Regions from separate parts of the Homo sapiens genome. Here regions 2 and 3 are each linked to region 1. The links come from fine-mapping of genetic effects on gene expression. A gene starts in region 1. Each other region holds a variant in brackets. All regions are shown on one strand. Distances are between the middles of the regions.

The links. PIP is the estimated chance that this variant, and not a neighbour inherited with it, causes the effect.
Region 2: its variant is the best candidate, but not a certain one, in a credible set for the expression of ETV3 in monocytes after LPS (Quach 2016, PIP 0.55).
Region 3: its variant is the best candidate, but not a certain one, in a credible set for the expression of ETV3 in whole blood (TOPMed, PIP 0.85).

Annotation. Positions count from the first base shown.
Region 1 is chr1:157,136,029-157,140,028 of GRCh38, forward strand. It overlaps ETV3 (ETS variant transcription factor 3), which reads right to left and starts at 2,367. Exons shown (of 5, transcript NM_001145312.3): 1 at 2,288-2,367; 2 at 279-337. The coding sequence starts at 324. RefSeq lists silencers at 2,105-2,294, 2,139-2,474, 2,525-2,894 and an enhancer at 2,826-3,431.
Region 2 is chr1:157,105,190-157,109,189 of GRCh38, forward strand. No RefSeq gene overlaps it. Among named protein-coding and RNA genes, the nearest start is that of ETV3L, 7.4 kb to the left of the region's middle. RefSeq lists enhancers at 120-1,081, 1,276-1,495. The variant C/G (reference allele first, on the strand shown) is at 1,652.
Region 3 is chr1:157,095,826-157,099,825 of GRCh38, forward strand. It overlaps ETV3L (ETS variant transcription factor 3 like), which reads right to left and starts at 3,983. Exons shown (of 5, transcript NM_001004341.2): 1 at 3,641-3,983; 2 at 3,316-3,553; 3 at 2,881-3,070; 4 at 2,043-2,163. The coding sequence starts at 3,698. The variant T/C (reference allele first, on the strand shown) is at 2,082.

The sequences.
Region 1 (4,000 bases):
AATGTTTCAGGAAAATACAGCTGAAAACTCCTTTTCCCTAAGGTTGGAACTGTGTCTCTGACAGCAAAGAGACTCTAAAGCTTAGGATATGGGTGTGGTGACCAGACATGTTAAATATACATCCATAGGAAACAAGCCTACAACTGTCCTGCCAGTATCCACCTAGCCAAGAGAGTGTCAGTCATGGTCTGACATTTGTGAACAGAGCTCAAGTGGAGAGGACAGGAACCACTGAGGGAAGCTTCCAGGTACATCAGAGATGATTAACTTCTGCTCACCTCCACCTCCTTCTGGCTTTTCCACGATGCTACAGCCGGCTTTCATTTTCACCCGCCTGCTGAGAGACACAAGCCACACAATTACTTTAAGATGCTATTTATTTAGTATCCTCTCAAAAGTTTTCTGGCAGTCTCTCCCCAAACTTCCTTTCCCCTGTTCTTCTTTCCGTATGCAACTCTCTTTCTTTCAAACATGTCACCTCCAAACTGCTACTCCCCAAGTTATCAAATGATGGGCCTCAGGTCATCAGCTTCAAAAGCCATAATTATCTCTCACCTGACTTTAAACCACAAAGTGTAAACACTGTCTTTAATATTTGTTTTCCTCCTCCTGACCAACCCTTCAAATGTAAAAAAATAAAAATAAAAAAGGAAGGTACAGTGAAATGGGTCCAAAAACGCAGCCAAAACAAGTCAAACAGTTTGTCTTCTATTACTAGACAAGCCCACATGCCAAGATACACAAGCCTGAGTTCACCAAGATGTACCAGTTTAAAGGATGAAAAAATCCCAAATCCATCTGATTCCCACTCAAGAATGAACATCTGATTTTGATTTATTTTACTGAATTATGTGAGATAGAAGGAAGATTCTTCCCAGCCACAAACTGCTCCCTCCCCCTTGAAAAATACCCTGGGATACAGGAAGTAAACACACCATATGTACATTTACTCTATTCAAAAAACACACACAAACTCTCAAAAATTTTTTGAGAAAAATTATACATTTTCTCCATTTAACAGGAAGGGGTGAAAAGCAGGCATTTCTGAAGCCCTTCTGGCCAGTGAGTGGAAGGAGTCTTGCTGCGATTTGAATTCATTCCATCCAGATTTACAGTTCCTCAATAAATTTCCTGTTCCTCCCAGCAAGGAGCTTTGTGTTAATCACTTAGCAAAAAGGAGGGAGGGGTGAAACTGCCAGAGGGACATGGAGGGAGGGCAGATCTACCCTCGCTGTTCCCCAGGGTGGATGACAGGCCCTCAGCATCCACATTAGCAGGCATCTGGAGAGAATGCCTAAGTGGCCCCCGCGTAGGGACAAATTCCTTATCTTGGAAATTTCACCTAACCTAGGATTTCTCTAGATCTTTTGAATATTTTTTCTCACCAAACACATTAAGGAGACCAGCAAGTGTCAGTCTACAAAACTACTAGCGGCCGAGGACAAGATAAACACCCCAAAGGAAGGAGCAGACAAGGAAAAACACACACACACACACACACACACACACACACTCTCACACACACACGAGATACATAATAACGAGGCACCGGGGCTGAGGCAGGAGCTTCCTCTTCCACCTTAGTGACAATGAGGGAGGAAAAACACGAATTTCCCCACTGCTCCAGGAAGCTGCCCTGGACTCTTAACTCCTAGGATGCGCTGTCAGATCGCGAGGCCTTTTACCCTGCCACAGAACTCCCTCCAACCATCACGACCCTGGGGTCCAAATCCCGTTGCAACGATAACCTGACAAGGAAACCCTCTCTTGACACTCCAGCTCTCCAATTTTCCCCATAAAAGTCCCTTTCCCAGGAGCCCTGGGGCGCCTCTGCACGCCTTTCGCATATTCACTGCAAGGACACTTCCATCCAAGTAGGGCCACTCGTCTCAACTCTGCAAACCACAGGACCCCTGCCCTTCCTCTGATCGCGACCACTCCCCGAAGAGTGAGGCATGCACAGTCTGGCGCTGCGGGTTTCCCGCAGCAGCTCCGGGTCCTGGCTTCCACAGCCCCCAGAACCTCCTTGCCATTCACCTCCCGGGCCGGGCTTCCCTTAACCGTGGCCTCAGGGCTGCGCGGGGCCACCGCATGAACGCTGCCCTGGGTCCCTGTCGCCCCTCAGACAGACACGGGATCCCACCCTCCCCCGCCCCCCGCACTGGGTGAGGCCCAGCTGGGTGGGTACGCGGCCTGGCGGCCGGCCCCGATTCCAGGGACGCCGTCCCCGCCAGGGTCCCGGATCCAACCCAGACACCCCGGCGGCCGAGGCGAGGCCGGGACTCACCTCTTCCCGGCACGGTCCGTCTTCGGTCCGGTCTCCTCCGCGGCGTCTCCGGCTCCTCCTCATCCACCCCAGCAGGAAGTGACCTCCTCGGCTGCTTTCGTCACTTCCATCCTCAGCAGAGAGGGCGGGGGAGGAGGAGGCGCCCTCCCGCCGGTTCCCAGCCTCACCTCGCCGCACCCAGCAGCGTCTCCCTTTCCTTTCTCCTTTCAGCAGACGCCGACTTCCGCCCGCACTCCTCCCCCTGCGCGCTCCTCCCGGCCCGCATCCCGCGCATCCGCCCCGGCACGGCCCGTGCGTCACGCTGCGGGGGCACGTTACGCACGCTCGTGGCGGGCGGCCGGCCCGGTCCGCTGCTGGGCCAGGGTCCTCCAGACGCCGAGGGGTGACGCGGCGCGAGGGGGTGCTGAGCTGCTATACGCTTCCCCCGCCAGTCCTGCGCCGTGAGGCAGAACGGACTTTGCGGGGCGAGGCGCTGCCCCGGGGTCCCACCTCCCGGGGGAGGGGACCTCGCAGACCCCACAGGAAGGCCCAGGCGCCGGGAAACAGTCTCTCCCACACAACAGAGAGGCGGCCCGTCTTTCTCCAGAAATGGGCCCTGCGACCTCCCAGAGTGGGGATCCCTCACAATGGGAAGACGGGACCCGCAGACTTCAGACGCAATTTCCCTACCCTTTAAGAAAGGGCCCTTTCATATACGTATGAAAGAAACCGCAAAGCTTTCTCTGAAGCACGTCGCTTTGGCATTTCCTCCCTGGGAAGACTGGGGGGCATGACCGCTTCCCCGCTAGTTCCCACCCCACTGCATTTAGTCTTAATTCGTCCCAGTCTAAGCAGCTTGCAAGTCCTCTCCCTAAGTCATTAAAACGCGTGTCCCCTTTTGGTTTTACCTTTTGTTCCTGCTCGGGCAATTTGTCTGTCCAAAGCATGATTTTTTCTTCCTTTAGAGGCTCATTAAGGATAAAGAATCTCAAGCAGTTCAGCTTTATCTGCAGTCCCACCCCTGTAAATCTGAGTGGTGTCCAGGCATAGTTTCACTCCAGAGGCAGAAGAAAGGGAGTAGTGAGGATCAGTAAAGGTTAAAGAATTTAGAATAAATACGAGCGTGGGGGAGGTGAAGAAGAGAGATGGGATTGAAGGAGAATTGAAGATCAATTTTGATCAAATGGATCAAAACTTTGTACCTCTGCTCTAGTAAGACCTTTGCACCGTCTCTGCCACATGGGACTTGGAGATATTAGTTGTTACAAAAATTGCTTCCAGTTTTGAATGTGCTACTAGTCACTGTGTAGCTCTTGATAAATTAATTAGTAAATTGGCTCCCTCTGGCCTAAAATTACCTTACCTGTTTTTTAAAAAAGATAACATTGTTGTGTCTTTTCTAGTTAGAACTTCCTACTCTGTAGGTGAACAAAATAAGGAGCAGAACTTAAACACCATAGAGAGGGTTACCGATACCTGCAACTAGTCCACTAGCTCTTTGTAGGAACTGTCTATATATTCTTTGCATCTTGTGCATGGTACCTAGAACGGCAACTTACATGTAGATATCAGATGTTTGCTAGAACATTCCTTTAAAATATTGGGGTTCGGCTAAACGGAAATTAAGTCCTTGTGCCTTCATCTACTAGCTTTGTGACCTTAGTTAAGTGACTTAACTTCTCTGTGTCAGTTCCTCATCTATGTGAACATAATACCTACAGTATCTACTGATGT
Region 2 (4,000 bases), 31 kb before region 1:
AGAGCAAGAGGGGCTGGGGGCCTGGGAGGGTCAAAGCCAGTCGCCTTTTTCCTTGGAGAATTTGGGGGAAGGAGAGGGCTAGATACCCTTCCTTCATGTCCCCTTAACTTCTCTTTCCTTCTCCCCTGACCAAGGGATATGCTGGCAGTGACCCCAAGGGCATCTTTTCTCTCCCTGCCCAGGCAATAGAGAGGACCCCTTTTTGATGCTGGGTGCTGGGAATCAGCCAGACGAACCCTGTCTCCCTCCTGCAGCCTCAGCTCTTCCTTCTATCTCCACAGCTGGGAGAGCCTCCCCGAGTGGGGTCCAGCAGCAGTCCTGCTTCTCCTTCTCTTTCCTCAGTCCTCAACGCCCCTCCAGGCTCCCTCTCGACTGCTGTCACTGCCCAGTCCCCTCATACAGCCTCAGATCTCTGCCCAGCCCCTCCTCTTAGTCCCCCTGTCCCTTGCAGATGCCTCCAACTCTTGTCTCTTGGGTCCCTGGGGGCCGTGGGATTTAAAAGTTTTGTGTAACTCCGTGGAGCAGAAATCCAAACCCAGACACTCCCATCCCCTGCCCCTCAGACCTGTCACGATGGGCAGCTGAAGGTCGGGGGAAGGTCATCCCCTGACACACCTTCAGGGACCCAGGGGCTCGGGAAGGGACGAGGGTGTCTGGAGACCAGCTTCCAGCTCCGCACCCATCCCTCTGCCTGTCAGGCCCCGGCCGGTCTCCACTTCTCTCTGTTTGACCGGTTTATCTTTCTTCACCTCATTTGCTCCTTCACTGTTCTCTCCTCTTCCCTCCCACTTTAATTCTTTTTCCTTCTTTCCACTTCCCACCCAGCAACCTTCTCTTGGCCTTTCTTCCCCACCATTATTGATTTTGCCATGTATTTTTCCACTCCTGTCTCTCTTCTCCCCTGTCCTCTCCTCTGCCAGTTTCTCTTGGTCTCTCCATTTCTGCCTTTACTTCCTGTGTCTGCCGATCCTATGGCCTCTCTTTGTTGCCCTACCTATCCTGCCCCTTGGAATGCCCATTTCCCTCCTCTGGAGTGTTGCCTGTCTCAACACTTCTTTCCCAGCCTGGTGCTCTCTGTTTTGCTGTCTCTGTCACTGTCTCCTGTTGTTGCTTTCTGTTTCCTTGTCTGTCTTTCCTCTCTTGCCCCCCATCTCTCATCCATGCTTTGGAGAAGGAAACTGACCACAGGCCTCCCAGCTTCCCTGCCCTGCCCTTATAGCACCACCACCCCACTCCCCTACTTCCTCCTCAGATCCCCCCTGCGCCCCTCGACCTTCCCCTAGTGGCAACCTCATTCCCATCAGCTGTGCCTGGGGGAGCCCCCTGCCTGGACACCCCCTGATCCTTCCCTTTGTCCCCCCAACACAGAGACAAGAAATCCCCTCCAGCAGGCGATGACGTGGCAGAGGAGCAGGTCAGAGGCAGAGGAAGTGAAAGCTCCTAGCAAACAGCTGAGCTGGATGAGCTGGCAGGGCCAGCATGGGGCTGAGTAACTGGGACCAGGACAGCAGCGTGAGAAGCAGGCATCTGAGGCCATTCTCCCCAGCTGGGGGCCTCTGATACCTTCTGACTCAATCCCCAACCCTCAACCCTCATGTCCACTTCCAGCCTCAACCCCAACCCCAATCTTAACAAGAACCTTCAACTTCCA[C/G]TAAGCCCAAAGCCTCATTGAAGGCTGCATCCATGCACCCTGGTCCCTGTGCCCACTGGAGCCCCACTGCCCTTGGGCAGGACCAGAAAGGGGCTCGGAGGTGGCGAGACAGCAGCACCACTCTCCCCAGCCCTTCTCCTCTTGTCTCCACTGGGAAGGAGTTGGTGAGACGAGCAGGACTTCTCTCTGCCACGGGAGCATCATCTCTGTGTCTCTCCAGCCTCACAAGCCTGGATCTGCCCTCACCATCACAGGGGCTCTCGTGATAAGCAGGAGACTTCACGTTCTCAGACTTTAGGCTTCTTCTAGTTCCTTGAAAAGGATCCCAAGAGTCTGAGGAAGGGAGGGAGGTAGGAGTGGGGCAGAATCCTCTCATCCCATCAGAGGTTTCAATTCAGAACACCCCAGCCCGGATCAGGTGGGAGCACAATCCTGGTGGCCCTCTGCCCACCCCTGCTCCTTCCCGTCCTCATGCTATGAGGTCCACACCCTCACCTGCCTCCCTCTGCCCAGTAGTAGCCACCAGCTGATTGTCAATCCTCACCCACTGATCTTCAACCTCAGCCACAGGGATGACAGCAGAGAGCTCCCTGAGACACAGAACCCTGGGGCAGGGAGATAGCTGAGGCCAGCATTCGGTCAGCCCCAGGATCCAACTTGATCCATTCATCCCAAGAGTTGTATCTGCCAATAGCTGACCCCAGCTGTGCCCCATCTTGGGGGAGGAGAGCCTATTGGTAGGCTGGACCTGCTGTCATTATGATGTCCTTCTGCAGGTGCCAGGGTTCTCTCTGGCCTAAGTGCCCAACACCTGGCTCTGTGGCTGTCCCATACCTAGATGGAAGAGCCCTGCCACCTCCCACGCAGCTTCAGTGTGACCCTTGGGTTCCCCTCTCCACCCGGTGCCTAGCTCTCTTTATGTCTCCCCTTCCTAATTGCCCCACGATCGGCTCCACCATTGAGGTGGTGGACAGAGAAGGGCTCGTCCCTGCCGGCTGGCCCCAGCTGCAGACCTGCCATCGGAGTCCCTTACCTTGGATCAGCAGCCAGGTCCCCGTGCTCCTCCGACTGGCTCCCTCTGGCGCTCTCCTCGCCCAGCAACGACCCCCTCCTCGCTCATCACACGCGTTAGGGTTACTTAAAATGAGAGCGGGATCTCCAAGCTCCCAGGGGAGCCGATGTGGTTTTCAGACAATAGCATTAACCCTTCGGGGGCTAGCAACACCACGGCCTTGAGCCCCTTCCCTTGCACCCCCACCTCTTTGGGGGTGAGGTGGGAGGGAGTATCTCTCACTGGGTCCTTTGCATCCAGAGCCTGCCTCTGGGGAAGATCAGACCTAAAACATCTGACCCACCGGGAGACTAGGGAGAGGGCTACCCCTTCTTTAACGCCAGGAAAAGGGACGCTGACCTATTGGGAAGGCCTTCTGCTGTCCACCCTTCCTACTTTGTCAGCCCTTCTTTTATGCAGACTTCTGTGGAGATGGAGTCCAGATCTGCAGAAGAAACACCCTTCCCAATCTCTGATTCTTAACACCATCTCACTCCTTGTTTTCTCCTCTGAGCCCCAGACCATGCTCTGCTCACCATGGTAGTGCTGGATCTTTGCAATTTGTAACTTTTCTTCGTAGTCTCCAGTAAAATGATACTAATCATTTACCTAATCTCTTTTCCCTAAGGATTTTAAAGCAGCGATTATGTCTGTTTCCTCTTAGAGTTGTAGAAAATGATTTTTTCCTTTTTTAAAAAAATTAATGTGACTTGAAGTTAGACAGCAGGAAGAACTTCCAACTAAGGGATAAACCAGGCAGGAGAAAGTGATGACGGGGTCATCAGAGAGCCTGCTAAGGAAATATTACAAACAAGAGAAGGGGTAGGAATCCAGAATGTTCTGGGAGGGGATGGAGGACGTGGGTAACTGACCTCAGGAAAGGCTTTTCCAGGGAAGCTGGAGGAGGGACGATACTGAAGACCAGGGCCTCTGTCGTTAAAGTCCTGGGGATCAAGTGACCCTGGAGCCTGTCGGCCCTGTCTCCAATCTCCCCACTCACCATCGGGGAGAAGATTGATGGATGTCATTGGGGGAATCAATATGATTTTCTTTTTTTTTCCCCTGACTCTGAGATACCAAGTTTCCCCCTACCCTCCACTCTCCTCGTTACACAGACCCTCCCAACCCTGAGCTGATCGAGATGGGACTGGAGGGCCATGGAATTAAATTCTGGGGGTTGTTTTCTGGCTAAATCAACCGAAGCTAACATGATGGAAAGGTGAGAGAGAGGCTGACTGACGGAGGAGACAGGAGCTGGGGGCCATGGAGAGAGGGTCCTGGTCAGGGAGAGCCAGGAA
Region 3 (4,000 bases), 40 kb before region 1:
GGGGTGAAGGCCATGGATCCTTCTTCCATGAAATTGGCTGGAGTAGAGGGGCAATTCTTTGACCTCTGCACAAGAGCCTTGGTTTGGCCAAGTGTCTCTGTGATCTTTTTCACAGAAAATCTGATACTGTCAGTTCCCAGCTCACAGCCTCTGTAAGAGCTGATGTCTGCCTCCATTTCCACCTCTTCTCCCACTCATTGGCCATGTGTTTCTGCACTGGCCTTCTCCCAGTCTCTCTGTTCCAGGGCCATTGCATGCACTATTCTCTCGCTCGCCCTCTGTTCCAGGGCCATTGCACACACTATTCTCTCGCTCGCCATGCTCTCCCTACTCCCTCTGAGCTAAGCTGACACTCACGTATACTTTGGGTGTCATCTCAAGTGTCACTTTGTCAAGGAAGTCTTCCCTGATGCCCTCGGCACCCTGCACTTCTCCTCTGCAGCAGTTAGCACAGTTATAATCACTTATCGATCATTAGTTGAATATCTGCACCCCCCTTGCCTATAAGTCCCATAAAGGCAGTGTTGCTCACATTGGCTTCCTAGCCCCTAGGACAGTGCCTGGCAAATTAAACAGGAGGTCATTAAGCATCTGTTGAAAGAAGAAATGAATGAGTGAGTGAATGAGTGAATGAACCCTATCTTCCCAATCTCTCTCCAGCTGAGCCTCCTTCTTCATCCCATGGCCGTTGTCTTGGTTACCGCCCCATCATCTCCTGCCTAGATTATCTTCAAAAGCCTCCCAACTCCAGTCTTATGCTTCCTCCAACCCAAACTCTACACACACACAGTCATCTTTATAAAATGAAAGTCTGGCAGGGCGCGGTGGCTCACGCCTGTAATCCCAGCACTTTGGAAGGCCGAGGCAGGCGGATCACCTGAGGTCAGGAGTTCAAGACCAGCCTGACCAACATGGAGAAACCTGGTCTCTACTAAAAATACAAAATTAGCCAAGGTGGTGGCGCATGCCTGTAATCCCAGTTACTTGGGAGGCTGAGGCATGAGAATCGCTTGAACCCAGGAGACGGAGGTTGCAGTGAGCCGAGATTGTGCCATTGCACTCCAGCCTGGGCAGCAAGAGCAAAACGCCATCTCAAAAAATAATAAAAGAAAGTAAAATAAAATGAAAGTCTGACCATGGATCTCCCTCCCAGTCCCTCCTGCCCACAGGAGAAAGTCCTGCTCCCTTAGCATGGCTTGTGCGGCCTCTGTGGCCTGACACCTGTTTGCCTTGCCAGCCCTGTCTCTCATCCGTCCTGCTTGTTCCCACCGCATCGCAAGACTTGCTCTCCAACAGCAAACTACCAGCTGTTCTCCAGATTTGCTACACTTGTTCACAGCTTTTTGCTTTATAAATGCTATTTCTGACTGGGTGTGGTGTCTCACACCTGTAATCCCAGCAGTTTGGGAGGCTGAGGCGGGTGGATCACCTGAGGTCAGGAGTTTGAGACCAGCCTGGCCAACATGGTGAAACCCCGTCTTTACTAAAAATACAAAAATTAGCTGGGCGTGGTGGTGCATGTCTGTAGTCCCAGCTACTCAGGAGGCTGAGGCATGAGAATCACTTGAACCTGGGAGGCAGAGGCTGCAGTGAGCTGAGATCCTGCCACTGTGTTCCAGCCTGGGCAACACTGAGACTCCGTCTCAAAAAAAAAAAAAAAAAAAAGAATAAATAAATGCTATTCCCTCTGCTTAGGCATCTTTTCCCACCTCCTTCACCTGCCCCAGTGTTGTGTCCTCTGGGAAGCCCCAGTTCCTTCTCTGGGCCTGAATGCACAGCACCTAGTGCTTACCTGAATGCCAGCAGCAGTCGCTGGCAGTAATCCCATCTCTGCTCCCCACTAGGTTCTGAGCCTCTTGAGCCTTTCATCTCTGAACCCCCGCACTTAGTAAATAGCTGGTGTTCAATAAATGTTGGTCGAATGAATGAATGAGTTACATAGTATCCCTTGTCTCATGCCCCCTCAGCCATGTACTCAGCCAGGAGGGCCCTCCCTCCTCTGGCTAAGATCCCCCTGGGCCCTCCCAGCCTTGAGCACTCACGGTAGACGCTGCTGCTGCTCCCCTTCTTATCCCCAGAGG[T/C]CTCTGGTGGCCCTCGGGGGGTCTGCTGTCCTGTCAGCTGCTCCACCATGGCCTGATGGGCAAATAGCATGCTGTGCAGGAGCTGAGGGGTGAGAAGTAGGTGCGAGGTGTGATGGGCTCTCCTTGGCATGTATCCTCCAGTACAATCTGGTACTGTTAGCCAGTTGCTAAAACAATGAAATACTCTCATACCGATTTTTTTTTTTTTGAGTTGGAGTCTTGCTCTGTCACCCAGGCTGGAGTGCAGTGGCGCCATCCTGGCTCACTGCAACCTCTGCCTCCTGGGTTCAAGCGATTCTCCTGCCTCAGCCTCCCTAGTAGCTGGGATTACAGACATGTGCCACCATGCCCAGCTACTTTTATATTTTTATTGGAGATGGGGTTTTGCCACGTTGTCCAGGCTGGTCTCGAACTCCTGACCTCAAATGATCCGTCCACCTCGTCCTCCCAAAGTGCTGGGATTACAGGTGTGAGCCACCACGCCTGGCCTCTCATACCCATTGTTAAAAGCCCACTGCCACGGCTGCCTACAGTCTCAGATGCCCTGGGCCCTTCCCTCTGATCCACCCCTAAAGGAGTGGCGACTAGGACAGAAGGAGCCACCCTTTCTCACAGGTGGGTCCTGTACCACCTGGATTGTTAATACCCCTGCCTCTGGGGCACTCAGGGTCTAGGATGCAGGAGGAGAAGAAAACTGGAGGCTGATGGGCCCCAGAGGCAAAGAGGAGGGTGGGGAGCCTCCTGGGCAGAGGGGTAGGACCTGGTGGAGCCCTGAGACAGGGGCCACCTCCGCTCTTACCTCACTCTGCACACCCACGGGCACCAGCGCTGGCCGACACAGGGCAGGGGCCCCCAGCAGCAAGTGGGGGGATGGCGGCGCCCGCACTTCCCACAAAGGATAGTTGACTACGATGAGCTTGCTGAAGTTGAACTTGTATGTGAACCTTTTGCCTTTGGTCTTATGCAGGATCCTCTTATTGTAGTAATATCTGGAGAATTCGAAGTTGAGAATAGAGTTGGCCCAGCAGTCAGAGAATAGAGTCAGGGACCCAGTCACATTCTCCTCCCTAGCCGGGCTGACCCTAAGCTGTTCCCCGAGAACCACTAGGCTGCTCACCACAGGCCAGGACACTTCCCAAGCCTTGGAGGGGTGGGAGTCAGCAGGGGTACCAGAAACCACGGCCCTTTTCCTTGAAATCCCCCCTCTTTGGCCATGTCAGCCGCCTCCTCTCACCTGAGGGCCCGGCTCAGCTTGTCATAATTCATCTGTGGTTTGCATTTCCTGCGGCCCCAGAGGCGGGCCACCTCATCTGGATCCTTGATGACAAATTCCCCGTACTCTCCCTGCTGCCAGGCGATGACATGGCGGAACTCTTCCTTCTGCAGCAGCTCCAGGATGAAGTGCCACAGCTGGATCTGCCGGGAGCCTGGGGACGACTCGGCTTTGTAGGCCCAATCAGGGAAGGCCAACCCTGGGTGGAGAGGGGAGAGTGAGGGCTCTGGAGGCCCTGCCCTAGGCCACCGTTGGAGCAGGGGGTAGGCCCGGCCAAGAGGCTCACCTGAGATCCAGTTGCCGGGGTTGGCTGGGATGCCCTCAGCCAAGCAGCTGCAGTGCATGGTCCACTCCGGCGAGATGGGCTGTGTCTGGGCCTTGGGGAAATGGTCACCACTTAAGAGGAAGGGAAGGAAGGAGGCAGAGGGGAGGACAGTGAAAGAGGAAGGAAAAATGGAGGGAAAGAAGGAAGGAAGGGAGAGGGTCAGGAAAGAAAGAGAGAAAAGGGAAGGGACAAGAGGTTGCCAGTGAAGGGGAGAAAAGGGAACCAGAGGCAGCAAGCTTCCCCATACCCAGACAGGGCCCAGCCCCCTCTGGGGACCTCCCCGCTGCCCAGGGCTGACTCGGACTCAGGGCTTCCGGCTGA